Homo sapiens: one gene and its partner. The protein of the gene in region 1 purifies or fractionates together with the protein of each later gene. This does not show direct contact. Each region holds a gene or a part of one and is shown on either strand. Other genes may lie near its edges. The genes, in order: ZP2 and FAR2.

Region 1 (3,828 bases):
CAGGCTGGAGTGCAGTGGTACAATCTCGGCTCACTGCAACTTCTACCTCCTGGGTTCAAGCGATTCTCCCACCTCAGCCTCCTGAGTAGTTGGGATTATAGGCATGTACCATCTCACCCAGTTAAGTTTTTGTGTTTTTAGTAGAGACAGGGTTTCACTAAACAGACAGGGTTGGCCGGGCTGGTCTTGAACTCCTGACCTCAAGCGATCTGCCCGCTTCAGCCTTCCAAAGTGCTGGGATTACAGGTGTGAATACCCAGCGAAGTGTTTGGCACTTAATAGGCATTAAAATGGGTTGTATTATAAATTAATGTGAAGACATGGTTGAGATCATGCTTCAATTTAGGAATACTGGCCTGTGCTTTGGTGGTACAAAGCCAGACTTCCACACCTACCACATAGTGAGTCACTCCAGTGGCATTGAATGGCACATGGAAGGTCATCCTGTGGTTGTCAATCAAGAGGCTGAAGCCTTCCTTCATGGCCTCTGGCAGGGTCAGAGTTTTGGCTCTTGCACCATCACCAACCTCAATGCTCCATCCCATCTGAACTTTGGTCCCCTGAAGTCAAAAAGCTTTGTTTAGAGGGCTGGTGCTCCCTTAACCAAGTCTCTGGTAGTCTAACAATTTATCAGGTTAAAGGTAATATCACCTTTAACATAGAATTAAAGGTTATTAAGGTCTGATTTTTAAAATTTGCTTCATACCTTACTGTCGTCAGCCAAGCCAGAGAAGACCCGTGGCAAGGAAAACTGGAAGAAAAGAATTGTGATGTAAGACTTTGATTTGGAGGTAGATGTTTCCGAATTCATGCCAGAAATTGCTGTGTGGTTGTCATACCAAAAGGCCTGCTGTGGGATGCAGTGGAAGAAGCACATGAACCCTGACTGTGCCCTTAGATGTCATTATACTTCTTTGAACTTCTGATCCCAAGAGGCAGCTGGAAGATCTAAGCTCCTTTCCAGTTGTAAGTTGGGACACATTTCTCCCCCCAAGATAGAGTTTCGCTCATCGCCCAGGCTGGAGTGCAATGGTGCAATCTCGGCTCCCTGCAACCTCCGTCTCCTGGGTTCAAGCGATTCTCCTGCCCCAGCCTCCCAAGTAGCTGGGATTACAGGAATGTACTACCATACCCGGCTAGTTTTTTGTATTTAGTAGAGATGGGTTTTCACCATGTTGGTCAGGCTGGTCTCAAACTCCTGACCTCAGGTGATCCACCTACCTCAGCCTCCCAAATTGCTGGGATTACAGGCATGAGCCACCATGCCTGACCAGGACAATGTTCTTAAACGTTTGCCCTTTCACCAATGTCCATAGAAATCAGGTACTATGTAAAAGCCATGCAGTTCTATCATTGTTATTGAGTTGCTTTTATGTCAGTGTTATTTTTAGTTGTCCATTGTTGACATTAGCCATGTTAGACTCTAAACCCATGAAGATGTGACTGGGTCGTTTTGTTCACTTATTGTATCTTAGCATCTAGGGTAGGGCCTGGAACATGGCATGTATTCCATTTGTCAGATGATTAGTGTGAGTGCAACTACCAATAAAACCCTATTGCCATGCATGATGTGCCAAGTACCATGTATATACCCTCAGTAAATTCTTAGAGCCACCCTGAGGTAAGCATTATTGTCCCATCACTTTGGACTTGGAAACAAAGCCTCAGGGTAAAGTTAAACCTCATCACACAGAAAATTAGCAAGTACAGGATTAAATCATGGTCTGATTTCTAAGCCCCGCCCTGGTTAGATCATCATCATATTCCCCCTGCAGTAGCCATATACCCCGAGCAGTCAGCCCGTTTCACTCACAGACATGAAATCCTTCTGGCAGATTGTAGATGCTGAAAGCCCCTGGGTCTCTTCTACTTGCATAGCTGGACAGAAGAACTGATACATGACAGCTCCGTGTCTTAAGGCAGCACTGTTGTTCATGACTCTGATGGTCATCTGGTGTCCACCATGCTGTGTACAGATAGCACAGTGGGAACAGAGTAAGTACTGTACCCCCATGGGATTCTAGAATACCATCTGACCCATCTGAGTGGGAAAACCCTTAAAGTTACTAATACCACAAGTGCTGGAAGGTACCTCATTCCCGTACCAGGAGACTAGCTAGCCCATTGTAATCTGTTAGTGAAGACTCATGCTGATAGGCCAGTTTTAGCATCAGGAAATGGAGTTCAGTTTCTATTTCTCTTATGTGTACCCTATGTCTCAGTACCATGGTCCTGGCTGAATGGGGTTGGTATGGGGCTTCTACCCAGGTTATCTGAATACTTGTTAAGCACCTAAGTAGCTGCCATTGTGCTGGGTAGAGCTACCCTTGCTATTACCCCTGACCTTAGGAAACTCAGTCTAAAAGCAGGGGTCAGCCAACCTTTTTCCATTATGCATTAGCAACTGTTTTAGACTCATGTGAGCCACATGAAATCCATAGCATATTTCCTTAAAAGAACTTTAAAAAGATAAAAGCCAGCTGGGCATGGTGGCTCATTGCCTGTAACTCCAGCACTTTGGGAGGCTGAGGCAGACTGACTGCTTGAGCTCAGGAGTTCAAGACCAGCCTGTGCAACATGGTGAGAGACTCCATCTCTATATATATATTAAACACACACACACACACACACACACACACACACACACACACACACACCACAAAAGTTAGCTGGGTGTGGTGGTATATGCCTGTGGTCTCAGCTACTGGGCAGGCTGAGGTGGTACTGAGACATAGGGTAGGGGATTGCTTGAGTCCGGGAGGTAGAGGTTGCAGTGAGCCGAGATTATGCCACTGCATGCCAGCCTGGACAACAGCAAGACCCTGTCTCAAGAAGATTAAGAAGATAAAACCCATTCTTAGTTTGAAAACCAAACCAAAACAAAAACAAACAAAAACACAAAAAAAACCCATGAACTAGGCACAGTGGTTCATGCCTATAATCCCAGTGCTTTGGAAGGCTGAGGTGGGAGGATCCCTTGAGGCCAGAAGTTTGAGGCCAGCCTGGACAACATGGTGAAATCCCCATTTTGACAAGACAAAGATTAGACAGGCATAGTGTTGCATGCCTGTAGCCCCAACTAGTTGGGAGGCTGAGACGGGAGAATCCCTTGAGCCCAGCAGTTCTAGGCTGCAGTGAGCCATGATTGCAGCCACTACTTTCCAGCCTGGGCTACAGAGCAAGCCTGCCTCAGAAAGAGACCATGGACTGCGTTTGGCCATCCACAGGTTATGGCTTGCAGACCCTTAGTCTAAGGGAATGCGACTCCAAGACCTCTAATGTTGAGAAGGTCTGTTTTAGAAGGAAATTATCAGGTTTTTCATGAAGGACCTATGATTACTTCATTGATTGATCACAGAGGGCTTTAGGGGACCAGATGACTTACAGTTCAAGCCTGTTTACAGAGTAGGGTCTAAGACTGTATCTGTACAAAGCTTAGACTGCTGACCACCTGCATCGTAATCAGATGGTATAGACTGTTAGATATGCAGATTCCCAGAACTCACCCCAGGCCTATGTCCAACTAGTCAAACCCAAACTTTCCAAATTACAACTTGCTAGCTTCTGCTTAGACAGGTTGCTTTTATTGCTCCTAATATTCCTGATTGGGCAATACTGTTGCTTGGCAATAGAAAAACCCTTACTGCTTAGCTGCTGTTTGCCTTTTAACACCTGTTTCTATAGGTCAGATTTCTATTTGCTAGCACCAAAATAGCCTTCCATCTCATGTTGGGGTTCACAGATCAAAATAGCTCGTGTTTCATCACTTGTTGTATCCAGGTTCTGCACCAGGTCTTAATCTGTAGAACATCATTAGTCTTCATTACC
Region 2 (3,828 bases), on another chromosome or scaffold:
TATCATTCGTCTAGTCATCCCTATTGGCTATGACTGCTTTAGTGCCCTAACCAATCAATTATTATGACCTTTAAATCCTAATATATTTACCTTGTGGTCCTTTACAGAAAATGTTTGTTGACCCCTGCTCTAAGGCTATGAAACTCACCTGCCATAGGTAATCTTAATTGTTTTGTTTTTCATTTATTTAATTTATGAGGGGATAGAAATAAAATAGTTAAATTGACTTCCTAGTAGGTCCTCAAACATTATTGGCATTCAGGCACAGAAAGAGAAATACTGCATCATCTCATTTTTAGGTGGAATCTAAACATATTGAACTCATAAATAAAAGTAGAGAGAAGAATGGTGGTTACTAGAGGTTGAAGGCAAAAAGTGGTAGGGGTGCAGGGTGTGGGGAGGTGGGGGGAAGTTACTGGTCAAAGGGTTCAAATTTTCAGTTAGGCAGGAGGCATTCGTTTTGAGATCTACTGCACAGCGGAATGACTATAGTCAATGATAATGTACATTTAAAAATAACTAAGTAAATTTCAAATGTCTCACCAAAAAAAAGATAAGTGATGGCTACTGTATCCTCTGAATGTATGAAATTATAACTTGTAAATTTAAAATAATATTAATTTTAAAAATGAAACAAACTATTTTTGGCATTGGAGTCGTGACAATGCCAGTTTTTGTTGATGGCTGGTGTTGCTAACGCTACATGCCCATGTAAAGAGCAGAAGACAGTCGCAAAGGTGATCACTTGTAAATTTTATTCAAACATTTGAACTCATATATACAGGATAGGCACTCAGATAAATAAAACTACGGCATCCAGAGGTAAGGGGGAAATTAAATCTAATATAACTTAACTGTTTTATTTTATTACCTCTGAGCAGATTGGATTTCCTATGAGTAGTCGCCTCTGATTTTTATTTCAATAATGAAGCCAATCTTTTTTTATTATTAATGCACACTTTTATATGAATAGTGGTAGTTTAGGGGTGACAGCCTCAATTTTGGGTGACAGAAATACAAATTTCTCTGTCCCCACCTTAAACCTACTGAATCAGAATCTTTGGCGTGAGGATCCCCAGGGCTTTCATAAGTAGCTGCCACAGCATAGGGGGAGATTTTGGAATAGCTAGTCCAGGTATTTCCATGGAACGTAGAGTCAGAAAATAAGACCTTCGAGACCTGGTGCTTGGCTCTGTTACTGCTGTCATAAAATATTTTCAGACGAGGGTGTGCTGTGTGATCACAGAGTTTGGATTATGGGTCTCATTGCCAGCCATATTGATTGGAAGATTTCTGTGAGATATCTAACTTTATAAAGAGGACTGGTTTCAGGTGACATCTTCATTCAATAGACATTTTCCCACTTTAATCAACACCAGTATTAAAGCAAAGAACATTTTATATATATATATATATATATATATATATATATATATATGTATCAATGTGATTAAACAATGCAATTAAACAATGAAAATTGATTAAACAATGTGGTTAAACAATGAAAAAAAAGCCTTACTGTAATTGCCAGACACTAAGAATAACATTTGCTTGTTGATTTAGCTGTATTATTTCGAAGTCCTAGATCATTTTGTATCCTTAACTGCTGCAGGTTTGCAAAAGCATTTTTCATCCTGCAGTTGATAATATGTATCCCCTATGGCTTTTGGACATCTTGCTTTTAAGGCATTTTAACTTCCCAGGCTTCTCCAGAGACAGCCCCAAAACATTGAAGCCCACACCTGAAGGGAGGAAGAGAAAGCAAACACTCCTCCCTGTGAATTTGTGTAGAAAAGACAAAAATATGGCTTCTCCAACCACTTACTCATCCTTCCATCTTAGCTGGGAAGCTGTTGGATCAGTAGCATCTGCTGATGAATAACAGGATGACCATAGGAGGCAAGAATAATATTTCCTGAGCCAAGAAATGAGAAATAGTTATAAAAACACCCCACATTTTAGATCATTTTTTAAAAATCGTGCACTATTTATCACAGGTCATTGTGAGGGCACATTCCACAGAAGTGAGCAAAAATCCCAGGTATCCTTGAAAGCAAGATCCTTGGAAATTAGGATGGCAATTAAGTTATGTGTCTGGTCCCAACATATTTGAAACCACTTAAGCACTTCCAGCAGAGTTAGATTCACCAGTGCACAGTATTGTCAAGAAACCAAAAGAATCTGCCCAGAAGAAATGGATAAACTGAGTAAAAGAAACTGTAACAAGTCAGTGTTTGTGCATGTATTAAAGATTTTTGCTTATTATTTTCAATAAAGGATATTTAATACTGAAAGTTGTATGGATAGAAGTAACATAGTTTTAGCATCTTAAAGATGGATGGTATTCAGTTAGTGAAATCATAGAGCAATTTGCCTAAAACTTAAGAGAAACTGTTTACTTAAAATAATATTTGTTTCTGATAGATATTAAGTAAATATTAATGAAACCAACTTGATGTCAGTAAATAATAATAAGTAAAAAAACCAACTTTGTATTTCTCTATTTCACTGTAACTATTGTCTCATTTTGAATTGAATATTATTTCACTTGTGTTTTGTTTACACAAGACCTTCAGGACATATCTGCCCTGAAGCTAAGCACATGATCTAAAAGATGGGCACTTGTTCTTTTACCAAAGAGTTTTCTGGGGATTGAGATCCACTTACCAAACTATTCTCAAAGCTGCAGGAATCTTTGATGGCTTCAAAGAATTAATTTCCTTCATCCAAATGAGCAGTTTGCTTCTTTCTCAGCAACTTGTACTTGCCATAACTCTCTTCTTAGCAGAAGTGTGACATTGCCTCTTCCTTCTTTTCCTTCTGCTATTTTGGTGCAGTCCTGCCGGAGGCAATGGTTATGCAAGTGCCGCTGAATGCATTGCTGATCACAGGATGACACTTAGATAAATTTAGGTCTCAGTTTCTTTTAGGACAGAACAAACTTTTCCCAAATTAGACTTCCTTGAACTCCTAGACATACTATATGTTGGCACATATCACACCATCTTGTCTACAGTACATAGTAGTGAGTGCAAATAGCTTTGTCTTAACTAAGTATATTCACACTGGAAATTGTAGAATGTTCAAGTACCATATCTATATTTGGTTCAATTCTCTTAAAGAAAATAAAAGCCAGTCCTGAAGACGTAAAGTGGCTTGTCACACATCTAGTTAGTGGGTGCATCAAGGCTAGTATCCACATCTTATGACTGCAAATCCCATGACAATTCCATTCCATTCATTCATTTATTCATTTGTACTATTTACTGAGTACCTACTATGTGCCAGGCAGGGTGTTTAGCTTTGCAAATAGAATGCAAAACAAGTTATAGTACCAGCCCTCAAATTTTAGTACTCCCTACTCTTTGAGCAATATTTGGCCGGTTGCAACTTGGAGTTTGTGCAATTTTTCAGTAATGATACCCAATGTGTAAATATACAATGCTCATATATCTTTATTTTCCCTTCTTCCCTCTTCTAACTAGCCCCAGTCAATGACTTGACTTCCCATAGCACCAAGCACTTAACACCAATAAGAGTAAGATGGGAGGCCGGGCACGGTGGCTCATGCCTGTAATCCTAGCACTTTGGGAGGCCAAGGCGGGCGGATCATGAGGTCAGGAGATCGAGACCATCCAGGCTAACATGGTGAAACCCCATCTCTACGAAAAATACAAAAAATTAGCTGGGCATGTTGGCAGGTGCCTGTAGTCCCAGCTACTCGGGAGGCTGAGGCAGGAGAATGGTGTGAATCCAGGAGGCAGAGCTTACAATGAGCCAAGATTGCGCCACTGTGTGTGAGACTCTGTCTCGGAAAAAAAAAAAAAA

Evidence for each region.
Region 2: the proteins of ZP2 (region 1) and FAR2 purify together in Homo sapiens (affinity purification with mass spectrometry; one large-scale study listed by BioGRID and IntAct). This does not show direct contact.

The regions. Positions count from the first base shown.
Region 1 is NC_000016.10:21,205,025-21,208,852, forward strand, and holds part of ZP2 (zona pellucida sperm-binding protein 2 isoform 1 preproprotein), read right to left. Parts: intron 1,967-3,828; coding exon 1,814-1,966; intron 752-1,813; coding exon 707-751; intron 561-706; coding exon 396-560; intron 1-395. UniProt on the Homo sapiens protein: Component of the zona pellucida, an extracellular matrix surrounding oocytes which mediates sperm binding, induction of the acrosome reaction and prevents post-fertilization polyspermy.
Region 2 is NC_000012.12:29,155,708-29,159,535, forward strand, and holds part of FAR2 (fatty acyl-CoA reductase 2), read left to right. Parts: intron 1-3,828. UniProt on the Homo sapiens protein: Catalyzes the reduction of saturated but not unsaturated C16 or C18 fatty acyl-CoA to fatty alcohols (FAls). A lower activity can be observed with shorter fatty acyl-CoA substrates.